5 separate regions of the Homo sapiens genome follow, and regions 2, 3, 4 and 5 are each reported to be linked to region 1. The links are microRNA targets in miRTarBase. Many come from high-throughput screens and were not tested one by one. Region 1 holds a microRNA gene; each other region holds the end of a gene's coding sequence.

Region 1 (4,066 bases):
CTGGGTGACAGAGTGAGACTCTATCTCAAAAAAATTAAAAAAGAAAAATTCATTTATTATAAGTGATTTATAGTAAATTTGTTAAGTTTTACAGCCACTATCATAATTGTGTCTTAGAATAATTCTTTTATCCCGAACAGCTCCCTTTTGTGCTTTTCGAAAGAGAAGTTGCTTGGAAATCTGTGAGCTTTGGAGAATGGCAACTGAATTTGAACCCAGGCTTTGCCATTCACTGTGTGTGAGACTGAGGAATTTACTTAGCCTCTGGCTCCTCTATAAAATAGGAAAAGCAATGGTTGCAGGTAGACTGTTATGAATACTAAATAATAAATGCAAACTACTTGGTGTAAAGCACAGTATTCCATAGATGATGAGCTATTCATGTATTCACTTAAGAAACATTGTTATGTGGGCACAGTGGCTCATGCCTGTAATCCCAGCACTTTGGGAGGCCAAGGCGGCAGGATTGCTTGAAGCCAGCTGTTCAAGATTACAGTGAGACCCCATCTCTACAGAAAAATTTAAAAATTAGCTGGTGTGGTAGTGTGGGCCTGTAGTCCCAGCGACTTGGGAGGCTAAGGCGAGAGGATCGCTCAAGTCCAGGAGTTTGAGGTTATAGTGAGCTATGATCATGCCAATGCACTCCAGCCTGGATGACAGAGCAAGACACTGTCTCTTCAGAACGAAACAAAACAGAACACATTGTCAAGCACTTAGTACGTGTCAGTGCTAGGAACTGCTAGTTGCTACAGTGAACAAGACTGACATGGCCCCTGTTTTTAATGAGATAATAGTCTAGCTAGTTTATCTTCTAGTAATATTAGGGAGGCTTTGAGTGTTGTTGCTGTTTTTCACAGATGTGGAGAGGGGAATGTTAATTCTTCCTTTTAGGAACACATTCCAGATTTTCATTTTCTTTGAGCAATTTTTTTTAATTTGGTGAATGGAATTTTTTCTAAATTATGCTATTAAGAAGTTTAAACTTTTAAGTAGACTTGAGGAGTAAGAGTATGTTTTAGGAAAAGAAAGTAGAGGCTAGAGACTGGAAAGTCATTGGAAAGCTATTTCAATATTATTATAAGTTGGATCTGAGGTAAGACTTTAGGAATAATCTAAATATTGTTGCTGTGGTGTTCTTACAGAGCTTGGTCAGATGTAAACTACTAATATCTTAATACTTACATTAAGAATTAATGTAAATTCTGTCCAGTTCAGATTATTTTATTTTATTTTTGATACAGTCTCACTCTGTCACCCAGGCTGGAGTGCAGTGATGTGATCTTGGCTCACTACAACCTCCACCTCCCAGGTTCAAGTGATTCTCCCTCCTCAGCCTCCTGAGTAGCTGGGACTACAGGCACGCGCCACTGACTTGGCTAATTCTTGTATTTTTAGTAGAGATGGGCTCTTGCCACGTTGACGAGGCTGGTCTCGAACTCCTGGCCACAAAGGATCCATCCACCTCTGCCTCCCAGAGTGCTGAGATTACAGGCATGAGCTACCATGCCCAGCCTCAGACTTAGTTTAAAAGAAAAAGAATTAAAGTGATTATACCTGAGACGAGTTTCCACAAACATTTGTTTAAAATTTCACACTGGAAAGTTTTTTTTTTTTTTGGAAAGTTTTATAAGCCATGTCATTGTCTCCTCTTCTTTTTTTTTTTTTTTTTTTTTTTTGAGATGGAGTTTCACTCTTGTTTCCTAGGCTGGAGTGTAGTGGCACGATCTCAGCTCACTGCAATCTCCGCCTCCCAGGTTCAAGTGATTCTCCTGCCTCAGCCTCCTGAGTAGTTGGGATTAGAGGCATGTGCCACCACGCCCGGCTAATTTTATATATATATATTTTTTAGTAGAGACGGGGTTTCTCCATGTTGGTCAGGCTGGTCTCAAACTCCCGACCTCAAGTGATCCGCCCGCCTCAGCCTCCCAAAGTGCTGGGATTACAGGCGTGAGCCACTGTGCCCGGCTACTCTTCTTTTCACTATTTAGAGAGCAAGATGTCTAGGGAATTTCACTGAAGTGATTGAGGTGGGTGGGGATTCCTTGGTGGAATAGCCCTCTGGACTCTGAGGTGGATCATATGTATGTATTAGTAAATATAGCAAACTGGTTTAATTGATACATCCTGATAATTAAATGGTACATAGGTTGACTGGTCAGTAAGTTAGGTTAAATAAATATGAGCTTTGTCAGAAAAACACAAGTTTTCATTAGGTATATTTATGTTTTATTTACTCAATACATTTACATGGTAGTGTTACAGATTATCTTCTGTGTACCTGCCATTGCGTTGGTTGCGTGGTGTTAGTCGATTTCTGATATTGAAGTAGCACAGTCATACAGAATATTGGCCTAAAGAAATGACAGACAAACTCAGCTATATTGTCTGTCAATTCATAGGTCATTTTCCTGTATACCATTTCTGAATGATGACTTTAATCCTCTTCCATTATTGGATCTTTTTGGTGTTACAAAACTTGAATTTAAGAAAATTGATATTAATTCTTAATCATTTGTTAATTTTATAAAACAGGCTGAAAATCTTTTTTTCTGCTGGAATCAAATGAGAGTCCAAGTGACCACAATTTTCTGTCTTTCTTTATTATACCTTTATATTGTAGCAAGTTGGTAACCATCAAAAGTAACAGCATCTCCACTGGAAATTGGTACACAGTCCACATGGAGTTGCTGTTACACTTGATAACACCATTAAACATATAAGGAGATTCCTTTTGCTCATCATGGGAGCTGTACGATATCTCTAAGTATACTTGTTTCACAGAAGAAAGTCTCGATTTATTCATGTTCTAAATAAGTTTAGGGACTGGTAGATTTGAAACGCTGATGTTTTATTTTGATTTGAATTAATAGTGTCATTTGCATTTTAGATCATATTTGTATTTTATCAAGAAATAATTCCATTTCTGACTTTACTGTCATTGGTCATTTTTTGAATCTGTGAGATAATGCCATTAGAATTTGGGTTGAAATCTGTTACTAGTCAATAAAAACAGAAGAAATAATTTTTAGCATAAAAAAGATAAAATGTAGAAACACTGGCTACCTGGGAAGGAAAAGAAGTTGGTTAAATTTCTTTCATCATTTCAAACAGTTATAATCACTTTCATGCTATTAATGCTATAGTTAACATAGTGAAACTTAGCCCCTAACTTCTGGAAATTATGAGAAATTTAGTAAAAATAGCCAAGGAATTTCCAATATAATTTGAGTGTTAACTTTAGCTACCTCAAATTTTTTCTCAGTTAACAATAATAAACCTTTTGTTCAAAAAATTTATGTTCATTAAATAAAGAAAAATTTCTTCAAAATGGTTTTCTGTCAGCTTTAAAACATAAATCTAGGATTAAACTAAAAATAGAATTTCCCCTTCCAAATTTCACATTGTTCTAGAATTAAATTTAGTAAACAAATGTGAAACATTTAGCCTCTTACCTCATTCTTCTTCCAGTAAGTTACAGAAGAAAAGTTGTCTTAATAATCTTCAATATTTTTGCTTATAAAGGCAAAACACAGAAGACAGTGGGATGACAGCAGTCGTTTCTTTGTTGCTTTAGTAATCTTAATGCTGCTTAATGTCCATAACACGCTAAATAAGCCTCATTCCGGTTGATATCGAAGTTCAGAATGATTGGCTGATGTCATAGTTGCTCATGCTACCTAGTGGATTTTCACTGATTGAAACCTAAGAAGGGACACGTAATGCATGTGTTGAGATAAGGCCTTTGAGTAAAGTACAAGGTTTTATGATGGATTTATTGCTTTATGAAGTAAAGCATTAAGATGGAAGCATATAGATTACATACTGGTAAGTGGTTTCACCCACTTTTATCAGCAGTCGTTTATACTGATCTTTGGGTTATAGGTTAACTATGAGTTTGTGTTAAGTATACAATGTTAAAGAAATGAAGGTAGAATTCTTAAATTTCAGACAAATTAGGAATTTTCCTGCATTTTTTTCTGAAGAATATTAAATATCACAAGGAAATAGTTAGAAAATTGTTTAAAAATTTTTTTAGGAAACAGAAAATTATTTAAGAAATCTTTTA
Region 2 (4,065 bases), not on the chromosome of region 1:
GAACAGTTTGCAAAGTAGCTCATGCCCCTATATTATTTCATTGCCTTTCTCACAAACTTAGCACAGTTGGCAGATGCCTAAAAACAAAACCAAATATACAGCTTGACAATTAAGTATTTACATACTAGACTAATATTAAAACATAAATCAGGTTAAAGGCAATCTTCAAATTCTTGGCATATATAAAAGATGCAAGTATTACAAAATATGACACCATGACTGAAAAGGATTTAAAAGTCTTTATTTCCTCTGAAAACTTACTGGTAAAGTATACAATTTATGAATAATCATATATTCATGCTTTTTGAAATATATCTGAATAAAAGACAAATTATTCAATATCAATAGCAGTAAATAACTTATTTGCAAGAAAATTATTACAATTCCTACTGTAAAGAATCACCAACCACTATTTAGCAATTAAATTTCAACACATTTTTTTTGGAACTCTTTAGGACTTTAGACAAAGGCTACCAAGGCTGACAATCCAGGTAACTATGGCAGTGACAGAAGTCAATCATTAATACTGCCATTATTTTAGACAAAGGGCTGACAATCTCAGAAACTAGTTCTAGAAATTATCATCAATGTGGCCATTTTACTATGGACAAATAAATATGGGAGATAGGGAACTTGTTACTCCATTTTCCTATAGAAAAATATATAAATTGACCTTTTATATATACACAGGTATGTATACACATACAGTATATGTTTTTCTGAGCAGGCACACCAACTAGGAAAAAATACAATAGCAACATAGGATTAGGTATTGCTTCTCATACTGATCACTAAACTAAATGGTATTATCATTTTCGGTTAATAAGAAGCATGCATAACTAAACAGTTTAAATACTTGAATCAAAATTCTTTAATAGCATTTTCTGAAATTTTAAATTAGCTACTGAAAATTTTCCACTATGTACAATATATTTTATTAATATGATTTCAAGCTTAAGGTTTTATAACAAGACTTTTCTTTTTGATTTAAAACTATAAGAACAAATATTTATTTGCAGTAATTAGGATAGCTAAAATCAAAGCTCTAAGAATAATTTCTGTTACATTTTGAGGCAACAGGAAATATATAAAGTTCTTAAAGTCTTTTATCAGTTGTATGATATTTTAATCATCATGAATCATGTTCAGGAACTTTTAAACATTTCAATCATATTTAATAAATGACCTGAAAGAGAGATTCTGATGCTAATGGATGAAACAGGGTACAATAATGGACCACAAACTATCTCCTCCATTGTTCTACATATAGGTGGCTGCAGTAAGGCCAATAGAATTTTTGTGGTTATTCTAGGCCTACCCTGATTGTCTGTTTACATGAATGTGCATGCTGCATTCAAGCGGCTTTAACTCTAAGACCGTAACAGTACAATATCTTTATTGGCACAATTTACTGCAATTGTATTCAGACTCAATCGTCTCATCTACTGGAACCTTTTATAATATATTGCTGATATCCAGGGGCAAGGCCAATATCCGGTACATTAATAAGTATGTATTAGACATTGAGTGCATATGCCCCAGCTGGGTTTCAGGAAACATGATTTGATATAAGAAAAATCGAATCCCTATGACAAAGTAGGTTATAATGTGATCCTACTGTCCCTGATTTGTGTGACATTATAAAAGGGGAAGTGAGGGAAAGGGGACTAAAGAGATGGGGAGGGGCTGTACACTGGGAGGTAGGGATAGGAGCAGCCTGAGAGGCTAGTAAGTTAAGTTCTTCCATTACTCTGGCTTGAACTATATCTGCAGTGGGTAGAAAGGTGAGGCAAGAGCTATATTCCTTGGTTCTTTCCATTTCCCATGAATCTGTGACCTGCCACAGCTGGCTTCCTTTAAGAACATCTCTGAAACCTGGTGAGGTCAGGGACCAGCTGCAGTTGAAGTATGTAAGAACTATGTACTTTACATTGGAGCCATGGCTTCCTGACAGACAATATAGGCCAGATGTTGTGAGAAAAAAAAACAAATAGTTCATTTGTTTGTTTATTTATAGGCAATTATAAGTCTCAACTATTGCTCAAATAAAGTAGACCATCAGAGCTTGGCCATTTGAGAAAATTTAAATATAGGCAACATCACTGCAGCTTAGTTTGCTGCCTATGTACAGCCCCCTTTTTTTTTTTTTGTGAGACAGAGTCTTGCTCTGTCACCCAGGCTGGAGTGCAGTGGCAAAATCTTGGCTCACTGCAACCTCCGCCTCCCTGGTTCAAGTGAGTCTGCTACCTCATCTTCAAAGTAGCTGGGATTACAGGTGCCCACCATAACACCCAGCTAAAATTTTGTATTTTTAGTAGAGACAGGGTTTCGCCATGTTGGCCAGGCTGGTCTCGAACTCCTGACCTCAAGTGATCTACCCACCTCAGCTTCCCAAAGTGCTGGGATTACAGGCAGCCCTAACGTTTTTATGTAGTGTATATTAGGGCTTACCAACTGTCATACACAATTTGGAGTCCTTGGTGGTTGCAGGTTTACCTACCAGAAAAGGAATAAAACAATTTATAGAGTGTTTTCCTTAGTAATATTTCAAAACCACAATTCTACTTGTTACTATTTTTACTGGTCTGTAAGACTATAAAATACTACTTTAAAAAAGAAATTTTCATTTAAAAAGCTTAATGCAATAAAAACACTGTGATCTATTTTGTTTGGAAGTTGACTGACAGCAAGCAATTATTTCCTGCGTGAGACTTTTGAGATTCATCAAGTCAATGGGAAAATTCTAAAACAATTTTCTTCTGGCAAACCGATTCTAAACATGGCATTGCATTGTCTTCATAACCATTCTCATATAGTAGGCATAGTAATACTATTTCCACTTTATATATGGAGAAACGTAGGCTCAGAAGTTAAACAATTTACCAAATATCATCAGTAGGACAGCCAGGATTAAATTAGGTCTGTAGACAATTAGCCTAATACTCTAGTTACTTGACAGACAGAATATTCAAATACCAATGAGCCTATCCACACCTTTCCTTCCATTCTTTCATTTCTTCATTATTGACCTTTCCCAATATGTAAATAATTTACAAACAAATATCACTACTGATACTAAAAAACACTACTGACTTATTCGTAAAAATGTCTAAACACCTTTATATTAGCATTTTCAATGCTTCTCAACATAGAAAGCAAAACAAACCTGTATTCCAAATACAGGCTTCTATCTAGATCATGATACTTTAGTTTTTCTATATGTTTTTATCATTATGTTATGATGCTCTTGTCCATAAAGAAAATAAAATTCAAATAACCAAAGAAAATACATGAGCTGGTTCTGAAAATGTGGCTTTCAAACAAAGATCCAAAGTGGTAAGCAAAATTGTCCTAAGACCATGGAATTATTAACAATGCATAGGATCACTTTCATATCCACAGTTACATTCCTGAGAATCAATTGATTTATAATTTTCATCTGCTAGTCACACAAGTTTGGTATTTAAAATGAGCAAGTCAATGTGCTTTATAAGTGTTGTGTGTTCTTGGAATGTCCTCTATAAGGAAAATCCCCTTTTGGATTTCTATTACCTATTTTGCCTTATAATTGCTGCTGCTTTCTAACATTTCTCAAACAGTCCTTCTATCAAGTAGACTCTGAGACCAGTCAGAATTTCCAAAGTTGGGTATCCAGTTTGGTGTATATCCATTATTCAGAGGACTCCTCTAGGTTTCCAAGGTTTGTGCTTTCCTTGAAAGTCTCCGAGTTAGCCTCTGGTATGGCACTGGATTCTGAAGCCTCTGGCTGTAAACTGTCTCCATCAAGGATAATGTCTTCAGGATTTGGTGGAGGGGGACAGAAATCTTCATTGGGGCAGATTTCCTGGAAAAGTGTTTCAGCCTGGCCAAGGAAGAAAAGATAAAATCGTTTTTGGAAATCGGTTTAAAATGTGTGTGCATTTCTGGCATTAACTAAAAAAAAATAAGTGTTTTATCCTTAAAAATTTGCTTAAACAGGCTACAGTACTTAATCAGAATACATGAACTTCCGTAAGTCTGTTTTCAGAATTCTATGACTTCTCCCTTTAATTCTATACATGTATT
Region 3 (4,065 bases), not on the chromosome of region 1:
CTTATAGTTTGAATATCTTTGTTTTAGAAAACAATTTTCATTTACTTTGTTGTGCTTTGTCAAAGGTCACACATATGATAGAAAATCAAGTTATACTTTTAACTTTCATTTTCCATTCACCAGGTCATACAGCAGATGGAACAAAAAAAATTACAACAAGGAATTCCTCCATCAGGGCCAGCTGGAGAATTGAAGTTTGAGCCACGTGTGTAATTTTGTTTGATTATTTATTTAGGAAAATAAATTATTTTATCAATTGAAATCCACATTTATTACAAATATAATTTCAAATCATTAAGATGTTATGTTATTTTTTGTGTATTTTTTGTGGTATTAGAGCAATTTAGATTATAGAAAAATGAAAATGCCTCCAAAAGTTTTATGTAGCAGCAAATTTTAAGTGCTGTATCATTTGTATAATTTGATAACCATATTTATGGTAAAATGATTTATTTCAACTTTATTTGTAATTCTTTCTAATTATATTAATCTTACCAGAGAATATGTTTTTTAAAATTGTGATCTATGATTAGCTAAGCATATTTTTTAAAACAAGTATATTTGTATATGAAGGAACATTTAGAATAAAGGAAGATACTTTTAAAATAAGAACTTTTTTCTTTTTTCCAACAGACATTTAAAGTCTGAAGTCCACCAGAACTTGGAAGAAAGCTGTTAACTCAACATCTATTTCATCTTTTTAGCTCCCTTCCTTTTTCTCTGCTCAATAAATATTTTAAAAGCATATTTGAAATAAAGGGAGATACTTTTTAAATGAAAACACTTTTTTTGGGACACAGATATTAAAGGATTGAAGTTTATCAGAACCAGGAAGAAAACAAACTCACTGTCTGCTCTCTGCTCTCACATTCACACGGCTCTTTTATTTATTTTTTTGTTCTCCTTTAATGATTTAATTAAGTGGCTTTATGCCATAATTTAGTGAAACTATTAGGAACTATTTAAGTGAGAAAACTCTGCCTCTTGCTTTTAAATTAGATTGCTCTCACTTACTCGTAAACATAGGTATTCTTTTATGGGTGCTTATCATTCCTTCTTTCAATAAATGTCTGTTTGATATTAACAATTCTGGAAAGGCCACAGTATTTCCCTGTGTTTCCTGGTAACGTTTTTCTAGTTTTGGCAACCTCAACTGCTAGAAATTCTTCACCTGAATCACTTTTGCTACCACTTCAGGTCATTTTTCATTCTTTTTTATTTTGCTCTATACTTTATCATTTAAGATTAGGTTATGTTACATATAACAGAAAAAACAAAGATAACAGTGGTTTAAACTAAATAGGAGTTTTTCTTCTTACATAAGTCTAGAAGTAGGTGGTGTCCAGGTTCCTATCTTTCTGCTCTGCTATCCTCAGTGCATGATTTTTATCCTCAGATTACCTCACTCTCACTGTTCAAGTTTGCTCCTGGAGGCAGTGGGGAAGGCAAGAAAACTGGACTTTCTCTGCTTGAGTTAGCTTCCCTGAGGCCATTTTCCAGAACCAGCAGCACCTGAACTTATGTTTCGACCAGAACTGGGTCACACTGATGGCCACACCTAGCTGCTAGGGAGGCTGAGAAGTCAATGTGGCAATGTGACCAGCTAAAAGTTGGATTCTTTTACTAAGGAAGAAGGGAAGAGGGAATGTTTGGTAGGCAACTTTGGATTTTAAACTCAGCCAGCCTTGTTGGCTACCTAAATTCTGTGTACCTTCTTCTTCCGAGAGAGAAAACACTCACCCCTCTCTCCCTGAAGAGAAACCACCAGAAATCCAGCCCATTATTGCATACTAGATGAAAGACCATGCTATCTGGAGACAGTCCCCTCCATCATGTTAGGGTGTGGCTCCTTGTGTTCTGGCCACCTACAAACTGAAAGACAAGTTTTCTGCCCTGAGAGCACCAGATGCATAATGCAAAGGTGCAGGAAAACTGACCTTTTAAATTTTTTAGAGACAGGGTCTTACTCTGTTGTCCAGTCTAGAGTACAGTGGTGTGATCATAGCTTACTGCAGCCTTGAACTTCTGGGCTCAAGTGATCCTTCCACCTCAGTCCCCCTAGTAGCTAGGACTACAGGCACATGCCACGAACGCCTGGCTAAACATTTTTTTTTGTAGAGATGGAGTATTGCTATGTTGCTCAGGCTGGTCTTAAACTCCTGGTCTCAAGCAATCTTCTCACCTCAGCCTCCCAAAGCACTGGGATCACTGGTGTGAGCCACCATGCCCAAGATCCCTAAAATTGACCTTTTAGAAAAAGGGAGAAATAGAAATATAGTGGCCACTGATCCATAGCAATTTGAAAGTACCACTTGGCAAAAATAATTAAATCTCTCTGCTATAGTTCATGAATATATTCCTTGGTTTGCCTATCAGGCAACCCCTGATTCACCTTTCTGAGAGGAATTCCTTTACCTAATGTCCTCAGGGGGCCTTGGTTTTACTTTCTTGGAGGTTTTTATTGTACATTAATTTTCAGACACAATCTGAATGGGCATTGGAAAGTATACCCTTCTTGGAGGCTGGGCAGCCTTAGCAGTTTACTTCCTATAATTGTGAGTCTGGGGGCAGGCTTGGGAATTAGAGTATAGATCCGTAACAGCTACAGTCTATTGCAGGCCAGGTTTGGGTTTTTGTTGTTGTTTTGTTCTGTTTCTTGGCCAAGTGGATTCCTAAAACTTTAGTAAGTTTCTGGTCTGTTGTCTTCAGTCATTTACATGGACAGTATTAACCAAGGTAAAATACATTGTTTTTAACAAAGAACCTCATCATTTACTTGCTGGCCTCTGTGTGCTCTCCATCCCCTTTGTTCTTACAGGAATGGTACCTCCTTGAGATCCTTTGAGACTGTAGGCTTGCATGGAATGGCAACAGTCTTAATCTGATCTCTTCCCCTAGGATGGCTCCTATTATTTGGCAGAAAATTCTTAAGGGAAGGTTCTTAAAAAAGGTTGAGAAAGTTTTAGTAGCTCCCTCAGAGCCTTTACTTATAAATGTTTCAGTTTGGAGTACAGTTTTCAATTCTTCAGGGCTCCAGATTTGGGACTTGGTCAATTTATATGGTAGACAAAGAGCAATTCTCTCAGCAAAGCTATTTTTCCCTTGCGTCACTGCAGACTTGTTAATCTTAGTCCAAGTCACATATCTCTTGTAGGGCTTTGCTGAAAAGAGGCAAGAAGCAGCCAACACATGCTAGCACTCTGAAGTTCTACCACCTTCGTCTCTGTGGCAGGAAGTCTCAACCTCACCTTGACTTCTGTTGGCAAGAAGTCTCACTGCCCAAAGCCCTACCTCCTCAACTAAGCCAACCCCAGATTTAGGGCCTTCGACTTGCTGTGCTTTACTTCTAGCTGCCAAATTCTGTATAGGTCAAGATTCTTGGCTGTAAGCAATGAAATCTTCTTTAGCTATTAAACAGAAGGGAATTGATGAATGAGTATATATAGGTCACAGAATCAATGGGAGGGTTGAAGAAACAGATCTAGGCTGAGCTTCTAGGAATTATGTCACAAGAGTAGGCTGCTGAAAGAGCTGCTGCTTTTAGAACAATCAAGAAGCTGCCTGCTGGATTAGGAAGCTGCCTGCTGAACAGTTGCCAGTTCCAGAGCCACACCACCTCTGCCATGCTTTATGCCAGCAAAAATAGATACATCTCTTCCTGCCTCTGTCCCCACGTTACTTGGCTCTGAGTAAAAGTCTCAAGTGAGTGAATCTGATGGACTGGACCAATCATATCTGAAACCCTAGCTGCAAAGGAGGTTGGGAAATATAATGTTCAACTTTCCTACCTCTGTGTGACAGGAATGCATGTTAAAAGCTACCCTAGGCCGGGCATGGTGGCTCACGCCTATAATCCCAGCACTTTGGGAAGCCAAGGTGAGTGGATCACCTGAGGTTAGGAGTTCCAGACCAGCCTGGCCAACATGGTGAAACCCCATCTCTACTAAAAATACAAAAATTAGCTGGGTGTGATGGTGCACACCTATAGTCCCAGCTACTCAAGAGGCTGGGGCAGGAGAATTGCTTGAGCCTGGGAGGTGGAGGTTGCAGTGAGCTGAAATCATG
Region 4 (4,065 bases), not on the chromosome of region 1:
GAACACAGCCATTCCTCTGCCGTCGTGCTGGGACCAGTCTTTCCTGACCAATATCACCTTCTTGAAGGTTCTTCTCTGGTTGGTCCTGCTGGGACTGTTTGTGGAACTGGAATTTGGCCTGGCATATTTTGTCCTGTCCTTGTTCTATTGGATGTACGTCGGGACACGAGGCCCTGAAGAGAAGAAAGAGGGAGAGAAGAGCGCCTACTCTGTGTTCAATCCAGGCTGTGAAGCCATCCAGGGCACCCTGACTGCAGAGCAGTTGGAGCGCGAGTTACAGTTGAGACCCCTGGCAGGGAGATAGGACCCAGCTGTGCTGTCATGCAGCTAACCTCTGATGTGGTCTTCCTCACCATTGGCTATGGATTTGATTTCAGGTGTATAGGACTAAGGGCAGCTTGCGGGTTAGCTCTGTGACTGCATAGTTTTTCTACCTTCTTTCCCTGATCTTTTGCTGCCATTTGATCTTTGATAGTTTTGGTGAAACTCTCTAAAATACATTCACTGTGGGTCCGACGCAATTTATAAAAATTATGTACTCAAGAAGGGAGACCTGTTTGTTTCATTTCTCATCTGTTTGGGAGATGATTTTAGAGCACTAGAAAGGCACTGGGGAGATTCTCAGCTTAAAACATCCAGCAGTTTGAAGTATGATTAGGTACATCAGGGCTGCATTGTCAATGTTCTCTTTAAGTCTTTTAACATTTATAGCAATTTTTTTTTTCCCGGAGAGTTTAGGTTGCAAGTTTTGGGTTTCTTGTTTGTTTTTGTTTTGCTTCCTGCTTTAATTCTTTAATTTTCAGTCATTACTGGTATTGAAAAATAAAATATCTTTAAAACATCTCCTCTTCAGAAATAGGTCCCTCTTCATTGCCCATCACCATCTTCCACTCTCCTATTATTTTGCCACTACTCAGTAAAGGAAGGTAGGAAGAGACAAACGCCTAAGTGCAGGTGTGGGGAGGGATTTCACAAGTGGTTATTAACGGCCAGTTCAGCAAGAAGTGTTGAGTGTGTACAAAGGGGAGGGCTGGAAGTGTTAACTCCAGACCCGTTGGCTGCTTGAGTTGTTTCTTATATTCTAAAGCAGCAGTCCCTAACCTTTTTGGCACCAGGGACCAGTTTTGTGGAACACAGTTTTTCCATGGACGGGGTGGTGGTGGAGGATGAAACTTCCACCTCAGATCATCAGGCATTAGAGTCTCATAAGGAGCACGCAACCTAGATCCCTCGCATGCGCAGTTCACAATACGGTTCTAAGGGCTTTAGAGTAAGCAGCTTTTTCACCTGTGGGCCTCTGGTGAGAAATTCTGTAAATTGTGATAATCAGGCTGGATTTTAATGCTGCTTTTCCAGTACAATGTTAGAGTTTGGGTTCATTAAAATTAGGCAAACTCCCATTGGGTTAGGGCTTCTCTCATTCCATTTTGTGGCTAACCTTACTGTGTTTCAGCCCTTGCTGAAAATTCTTCTGATATGTGTTGCCCTTCCTCACAGCCCTTTGGCCATTGGGAGTTTGGCTGTCCCTCAGAGCCATCCGGTCAAGCAGATGGTCTGTTCTATCTCACAGAAAAGTCTTTTCTTCCATGAGTTCTGTCTGAACTGAACATGTAAAAAGTATGGGAAACAGATGAATCCCTATTAAACATGAAGTTTTGATTGTATTTAAGATACAATTTTGTTGACTGATTTATTTTCTTAAGGCTTTCTTAATTTTCTTGATACTTTCCTTGGGCTTTTCTGTTTCATAAAAGCCCCATACAAGGGAGTAATTCCCTAATCTTAAGTTTTACTGCAGTGCTCAGGGCAGTAAGCATTGCTGTAGGAAAGAACTAATTTGTATTTTAAAAACATATAATTCAGACTTTCCCCTAAAACAAAATGCCTGTAACTCTGAATTAGGTTTGATCCAATTAGTAATCCCAGTGGGGTAAAGACTTAAGCACGCATGAGACTTGACCTATGGGTGGACCTCAGTAGTGATTTTTGAAATGCAGCTGTTTTTGAGGTGGAGTCTAGATTGCCTCAAACCCATCTTGCATGAGATTTTCTGTGAACAATTTGTCACTTCTAACCTCTTACCAAAGGTGCATGTAATGATGGCATTAACTTCTAGGAAAAATAGTGTGTGAATCAATTAATGGCCTGGCAGGGAGAAGAAGAAAGAACAATAAGTATTTGGTGCTCTGATCAGACCATTAGGTTTTAGGTGCAGCCTTGATTTTCCGAATTTAGGCCTATTGATCTCAGAATTTCCACTCACAGCCTGACCATTAACCCAGCATGCAGCTTCCATTAAAGGATTCTTCTGTCATCAGGGAACTTGAAATCCCAGAGGTAGATGCAGTCACTGTGATAGCTTTATACACGAGTGAAGTCGTTTGTGTCCAAGTCTAACAAGTAACTTGGTTTTTGCTTTTATTCACATTATCCCATCTTGCCTATTGATAGGGACTGTTCAACAAGACTCTACATCTAAAGTTGGAAGGGACCCCAAAATACCATCAAGTGTGTTCCCCACCCCCAACCTTGGGCAGGGCCATCATTTATTCCCAACTAAAGATAATTTGTTTCTAGTGAACCCCTAAAGAAGATTCCAGGTACTTCCTAGGAAGTTCTTTATGTTTACTGAAAGAACTTTTGCCACCCCCATCCCCGCCATCTGGGGTTATTTTGTCTCCTAATCTCAGTGGATGTGGAGTCCCTGGAGGCCTATGTGAGCATCCTTCACACTGGTAAACCTTTACTCAGTTCTCTTTTCTCTCTGCTCTTTAGGCCAAGTCATTGAGCTATACCTCTGGGACTCAATCACTTTCATGCTAGCCCTGACCTATTCTAAGTGTTTCAGGTTTGGGTGGGGGTGAGTGGCCCTGTGGATGGGTATAATGATCTTTCTCAAAAGCTTTGGAGCTTTGCCAGTGATGACTTAGGCATGTGTATTTTGTGCTATTAGAGTTATGCTTTGAGTATAGGCTGTCTTTCACATTTGCCTTTTGACTGATCTGTGCGTCAATCAAAAAGCTCTGTGCTGCAAAATCTTAGAAAGTTACAGAATTGAAAGAACCAGTGACCCTCAGTTGGGCAGAAGACATCAAAATTCGAGCTGTGTGTTTTTAGTTCCTGCCACTCATACCAGCAAATATTTGTAGATGCCCTGGATTTGGCGCTGCTGGGGACACACACATATGAGCTCCTGCATAGGATGAGCGTCCCTAAGAGCCCGGGGATGCAGGGGTGGGGTTGGGATGTCATGAAGCATGTTGCCGCCAGGCGGTGGCGTAGAGCTGCCACTATACCTCACGGGTCCCTTCACATCACACTTGAAAATTTACGTAATGTGGAAAACCCTCTGGGATGTTTATCTCAACCGCTTGTGCTGCTTTTTCAGATGTTTTTTTCAGTTTAAAACTCACAGAGGAAAGGGCCCATCAGAGGTCCTGGGAAAGGCATAGAAAGCTACCAGAAGTGATTTATATATGTATTTAAAAATAAAACAGCAGCCCCTCTCTAGACTTAGCAGGCAGTGTTACAGTTGCTTGCACATAGCTAAGCTTTGCGGGAAGGGGAGGTGGAATGACTAAGAATTTACATAGTTGGCAGAGAAAACCAACTCCCTAAGCCAAAGAAAGTAACTTTTGAACCATATGCTTTGGTTTCTATCACACATAATTTTATTTCACAACTTTGGAGCACTAGGCTACATAAAGACTTGGATCCCATTCTCAAAAATCTGAGAGAGAAGACAAGATGAGTGCACACAAACTGTATTATAAAGTACAGGACATAATGTGAATGTTTATAAAGGTGTAAGGTGTGTGTGTGTGTGTTCAAGGGAGAGATCACTTGCAGTCCTAAATTCTATACTATATAGGATTTTCACTTCTATGTGAAAAATACTCTTTCCTTAACAAGTCATGGATGAACGTTTTGAAAAGTATGGTCTATAGACCACGCACCTGCATAGGAATCTCCTGTAGTAATGTTAAAATGCAGATTCCAGGGCCCCCACTGACTCAGAATGTCTGAGGGTAGAATCCTGAGAATCTGCATTTTAACAGCCTCCCA
Region 5 (4,065 bases), not on the chromosome of region 1:
AAGCACTTTTTTTTTCATCATTCCTTGTCAGAGTTTAAGCTTCTCTGTGCCTTCCTCTTCCAGGTGGTCATCGAGTTTGACCAAAACGTCTTTACTGCTTTCACCTGCCTGAGTGCAGATTGCAAGATTGTGCACGAGTACATTGGCGGCTACATTTTCTTGTCCACCCGCTCCAAGGACCAGAATGAAACACTCGATGAGGACTTGTTCCACAAATTGACCGGCGGTCAGGATTGAAACAAGCACGCGTGCTCGGCTCACACCAACAAGGCAAGCCAAAGGCGCCCCTCCCCAGAGGGATCCCTAACGTGCCCAGCATGTAGATTCTGGACTAACAGACAACATACATTCACCGCTGGTCACCCAGATCCTCATTCAAACCCACTGCTGGCACATCCCTTTCCTTACTTTGCCCTGTGCTACCAGCCACGGAAGGAGCCTCTCTTGTTTTTTCTATAAAATGGGTAGGCAGGAGAAAAGCAGGTGCCCTAAGATTGCTCTAAGGCCCAGCATGTGGTTACAGTTCTCTGACTTGCAGAACCTGCCAGGTGTATGGCTACAAGTTATCCTCGTGCTGATCTGTCTCATTACTAAGTCAATGGAGAAGACAGAAAGGTAAAAATCACGTGTAGCAAGAACAACTCTTATTTCACAAACTCAGGTATGAAACGAAACGCCTGTCCTTCATGGAACTGCTTTTAGCTCCTGTCTTTTCAAAATGGCAGAGGGAGTTCCTACACACACTTTTTCCCTGGAGGCCAAGGTCTAGGGGTAGAAAGGGGAGGGGTGGGGCTACCAGGTAGCAGTTGACAACCCAAGGTCAGAGGAGTGGCCCTCAGTGTCATCTGTCCACAGTGATACCTGCCAAGATGACCACTGACCCACATCTGGTCTTAGTCATTGGTCTCCTCAGATTTCTGGGGCCACCTGCAAGCCCCATTCCATTCCTACAGATCTCTCAGCCACCTGTAAGTCCTTTGTGAAGATGTGGGTGACACAGGGGGACAGGAAAACCCATTTCTCAACCCAGATCCATGTCTCCACTGCTTCTACTCTGGGTTGGGATTCAGGAAGACAGGCACAGTCCTCTCTGTTCATAGAAACACCTGCCAGTGTCAAGGATTCCAGTCAGGTGTCTATCCCAACTGGTCAGGGAGAGAAGGGCAGACCCATTCTCAAAGACCACCATGTCCAAGGTCTGACAGCTCCCCACTGGCTGCCCCCACAGGGGCTTTAGGCTGGTCTGGGTCATGGGGAAGCGTCCCTCTTATCGCTGGTCTGTGTTCTCCTGGATTTGGTATCTATGTTGGTACGACTCCTGGCCTTTTATCTAAAGGACTTTGGCTTTTGTAAATCACAAGCCAATAATAGACTTTTTTCTCCCCCTCTGTTTTTTGCTGTGTCATCTCTGCCTTGAGACTGCCTTGAGACAGTGCTTGCCTTGAGAGAGTGAGCCAATTAACAGCTGCCTGAATTGTCATTTTCCATTTTGGTTTGTTAGAGGTGGGAGGGGTGGGTTTTGAGAAGGTCAAAAGCAATACCAGAAGTAAAGGGAAATATCAGACAATATTTTATTATTTTTTCATAGATGTTCTGCCACACAAAGAACTTGGGGTGTAAGGATAAGGCAAAAGCTCCAATCCCATTTTTCAGTTCTCCTAGGATGCACCCCTCAGGGAGCCTGGCCAGAGTTCCGAGGCCCGTGAGCGTCAGCTGTTGCTTTATTTTCCATCAAAGCCCTCTGAGAAGTGAGACCTCAGCAATTCCGGGAGCCACATAGAGACAGACTTGGCAAGGGACCCCCTGGTTCTGAGCCAGTAGCTGCCATCTGGAAATTCCTCTTTTAGCCTCTCCTTAGAGGTGAATGTGAATGAAGCCTCCCAGGCACCCGCTGAATTTCTGAGGCCTTGCTTAAAGCTCAGAAGTGGTTTAGGCATTTGGAAAATCTGGTTCACATCATAAAGAACTTGATTTGAAATGTTTTCTATAGAAACAAGTGCTAAGTGTACCGTATATACTTGATGTTGGTCATTTCTCAGTCCTATTTCTCAGTTCTATTATTTTAGAACCTAGTCAGTTCTTTAAGATTATAACTGGTCCTACATTAAAATAATGCTTCTCGATGTCAGATTTTACCTGTTTGCTGCTGAGAACATCTCTGCCTAATTTACCAAAGCCAGACCTTCAGTTCAACATGCTTCCTTAGCTTTTCATAGTTGTCTGACATTTCCATGAAAACAAAGGAACCAACTTTGTTTTAACCAAACTTTGTTTGGTTACAGTTTTCAGGGGAGCGTTTCTTCCATGACACACAGCAACATCCCAAAGAAATAAACAAGTGTGACAAAAAAAAAAAAAAACAAACCTAAATGCTACTGTTCCAAAGAGCAACTTGATGGTTTTTTTTAATACTGAGTGCAAAAGGTCACCCAAATTCCTATGATGAAATTTTAAATTAATGGGCACCTTTCAACATCATTTGCTTCCTTATCTACAGTTGATTCAGAAATCTGCATTTTTTATTCTTTTATATGACTTTTAAGTAAAAGATTTATATGGATTTGAGTACGGTCCTGTTGTGTCCTCTCCAACCTACTGTCTCCAAAAAGGTGACTTTTTCCTCTCTTATGAAAAGGGACTGCAACTCTGAGGTCTAACATGTGTCTCTCCTCACAGCGCCAAGATTCCGGGTCGTTCCCTCCCGTGGTGTGGGGAGTGGCAGATTCCAGGGGTCCTCAGAGAGCCCCTTAGAAACCTCACTTACCCGCTGGTTTCAACTCCTTTCTCACTGACTTGGTCACAGATTTCCTGGCATATCCTGCCTTATCATGAGCTCTTTTGTCTCTTTCCAGTTCTATATTAAAACACACACACACACACACACACCAGCAAGCAAAGATCCCCAGCGGCAATAGAACAGCAGAAGCCTCTGATTCTGATGGCTGAGTGTTGAGGGCACTTTGCTTTAGTGACATGCAGTTTATAGATATCCCTTTGTGCAATTCTCCTGTCAGCCCACAGAGGGTAGAAATGGCTTCCTCTACAAAGGAGAAAGGTTCAGAAGGTGAACTTGCCCAGGGTCACACTGCCAATGAGCAGTGTTTGTCTTGACTCCAGAAGCCACTAAGCTTAACCCAGCAAACCCCACCCTTCCTTCCCAGCCTTGCCCAGCCTTGAAATGCCCCTTACCCTAGCTCCAGAGCAGGCGTTCCTGAGCTCAGGCTCATACCAGTAAGAGAGAACCAGGGGCATTAAGAGCAGTTAGCTGTGGGAGGAGAGGCTGGACCAAAAAGGTCTGGGAGCCAGAGAAATGAGGTGCTTAGAGTGTTGTTGTTTTTTTCTTTGTTTTAATTTTTGTTTTTGTTTTTTGAGATGGAGTTTCACTCTTGTTGCCCAGGCTGGAGAGCAATGGCGTGATCTCAGCTAACCACAACCTCCGCCTCCCAGGTTCAAGCGATTCTCCTGCCTCAGCCTCCCGAGTAGCTGGGACTACAGGCATGCACCACCACGCCTGGCTAATTTTGTATTTTTTTTAGTAGAGACGGGGTTTCTGCATGTTAGTCAGGCTAGTCTTGAACTCCTGACCTCAGGTGATCCGCCTGCCTCGGCCTCCCAAAGTGCTGGGATTACAGGCGTGAGCCACCGTGCTTAATTTTGGGAAAGTTTCATTTTTAGTCCCACGGTCAGAAAAGTAAGGAAATGAGGAAGCTTTAATTTGAAAACTCATTTAATACAAGAAGTCAAGATATTTTATAATATCTGTCTTCTAAAATCACTTTAAAATTTTATTTTTAACTCACAAGATTTATTTTTGGGGGCTGGGCATAGTGGCTCACCTTGTAATCCCAGCACTTTGGGAGGCCAAGGCAGGAGGCTTACCCGAGCCCAGGAGTTCAAGACCAGCTTGGGCAACACAGCAAGACCCCATCTCTACAAAGATTTTAAAAAATTAGCTGGGCATGGTGGCACATGCCTGTAGTCCTAGCTACTTGGGAGGCTGAGATGAGAGGATCCCTTGAGCTCCAGGAGTTCAAGGTGGCAGTGAGCTATGATCATGCCATCACA

The links. The annotated mature microRNA hsa-miR-215-5p reads AUGACCUAUGAAUUGACAGAC and lies in region 1 at 2,384-2,404, opposite strand. An mRNA with a match to its seed (bases 2 to 7 or 8) in the 3' UTR can be bound and repressed. Matches are read on the target gene's strand: a 7mer-m8 pairs with bases 2 to 8, a 7mer-A1 pairs with bases 2 to 7 and ends in A, and an 8mer does both.
Region 2: miRTarBase lists CHM as a target of hsa-miR-215-5p. Seed matches in the 3' UTR shown: 7mer-A1 at 3,025-3,031 and 7mer-A1 at 669-675.
Region 3: the mRNA of NUCB2 is a reported target of hsa-miR-215-5p. The part of its 3' UTR that is shown has no 7-base or 8-base seed match.
Region 4: miRTarBase lists SAYSD1 as a target of hsa-miR-215-5p. The part of its 3' UTR that is shown has no 7-base or 8-base seed match.
Region 5: miRTarBase lists FERMT1 as a target of hsa-miR-215-5p. Seed matches in the 3' UTR shown: 7mer-A1 at 1,526-1,532.

The regions. Positions count from the first base shown.
Region 1 is chr1:220,115,533-220,119,598 of GRCh38, forward strand. MIR215 (microRNA 215) reads right to left here and starts at 2,430; the gene lies at 2,321-2,430. All of the region lies in intron 12 of IARS2 (isoleucyl-tRNA synthetase 2, mitochondrial), which reads left to right. MIR194-1 (microRNA 194-1) reads right to left here and starts at 2,709; the gene lies at 2,625-2,709. LOC124904515 (a long non-coding RNA gene) reads right to left here and starts at 3,581. Exons shown (of 2, transcript XR_007066883.1): 1 at 3,453-3,581; 2 at 2,210-2,351.
Region 2 is chrX:85,860,960-85,865,024 of GRCh38, forward strand. It overlaps CHM (CHM Rab escort protein), which reads right to left. Exons shown (of 15, transcript NM_000390.4): 15 at 221-3,862. The coding sequence ends at 3,671. Among named protein-coding and RNA genes, the nearest start is that of MIR1321, 27 kb to the left of the region's middle.
Region 3 is chr11:17,330,779-17,334,843 of GRCh38, forward strand. NUCB2 (nucleobindin 2) reads left to right here. Exons shown (of 14, transcript NM_005013.4): 13 at 124-205; 14 at 634-1,433. The coding sequence ends at 641. Among named protein-coding and RNA genes, the nearest start is that of NCR3LG1, 19 kb to the right of the region's middle.
Region 4 is chr6:39,101,671-39,105,735 of GRCh38, reverse strand. It overlaps SAYSD1 (SAYSVFN motif domain containing 1), which reads left to right. Exons shown (of 2, transcript NM_018322.3): 2 at 1-1,673. The coding sequence ends at 304. Among named protein-coding and RNA genes, the nearest start is that of SAYSD1, 11 kb to the left of the region's middle.
Region 5 is chr20:6,073,345-6,077,409 of GRCh38, reverse strand. It overlaps FERMT1 (FERM domain containing kindlin 1), which reads left to right. Exons shown (of 15, transcript NM_017671.5): 15 at 64-2,565. The coding sequence ends at 237. Among named protein-coding and RNA genes, the nearest start is that of LRRN4, 21 kb to the right of the region's middle. RefSeq lists a silencer at 2,976-3,125.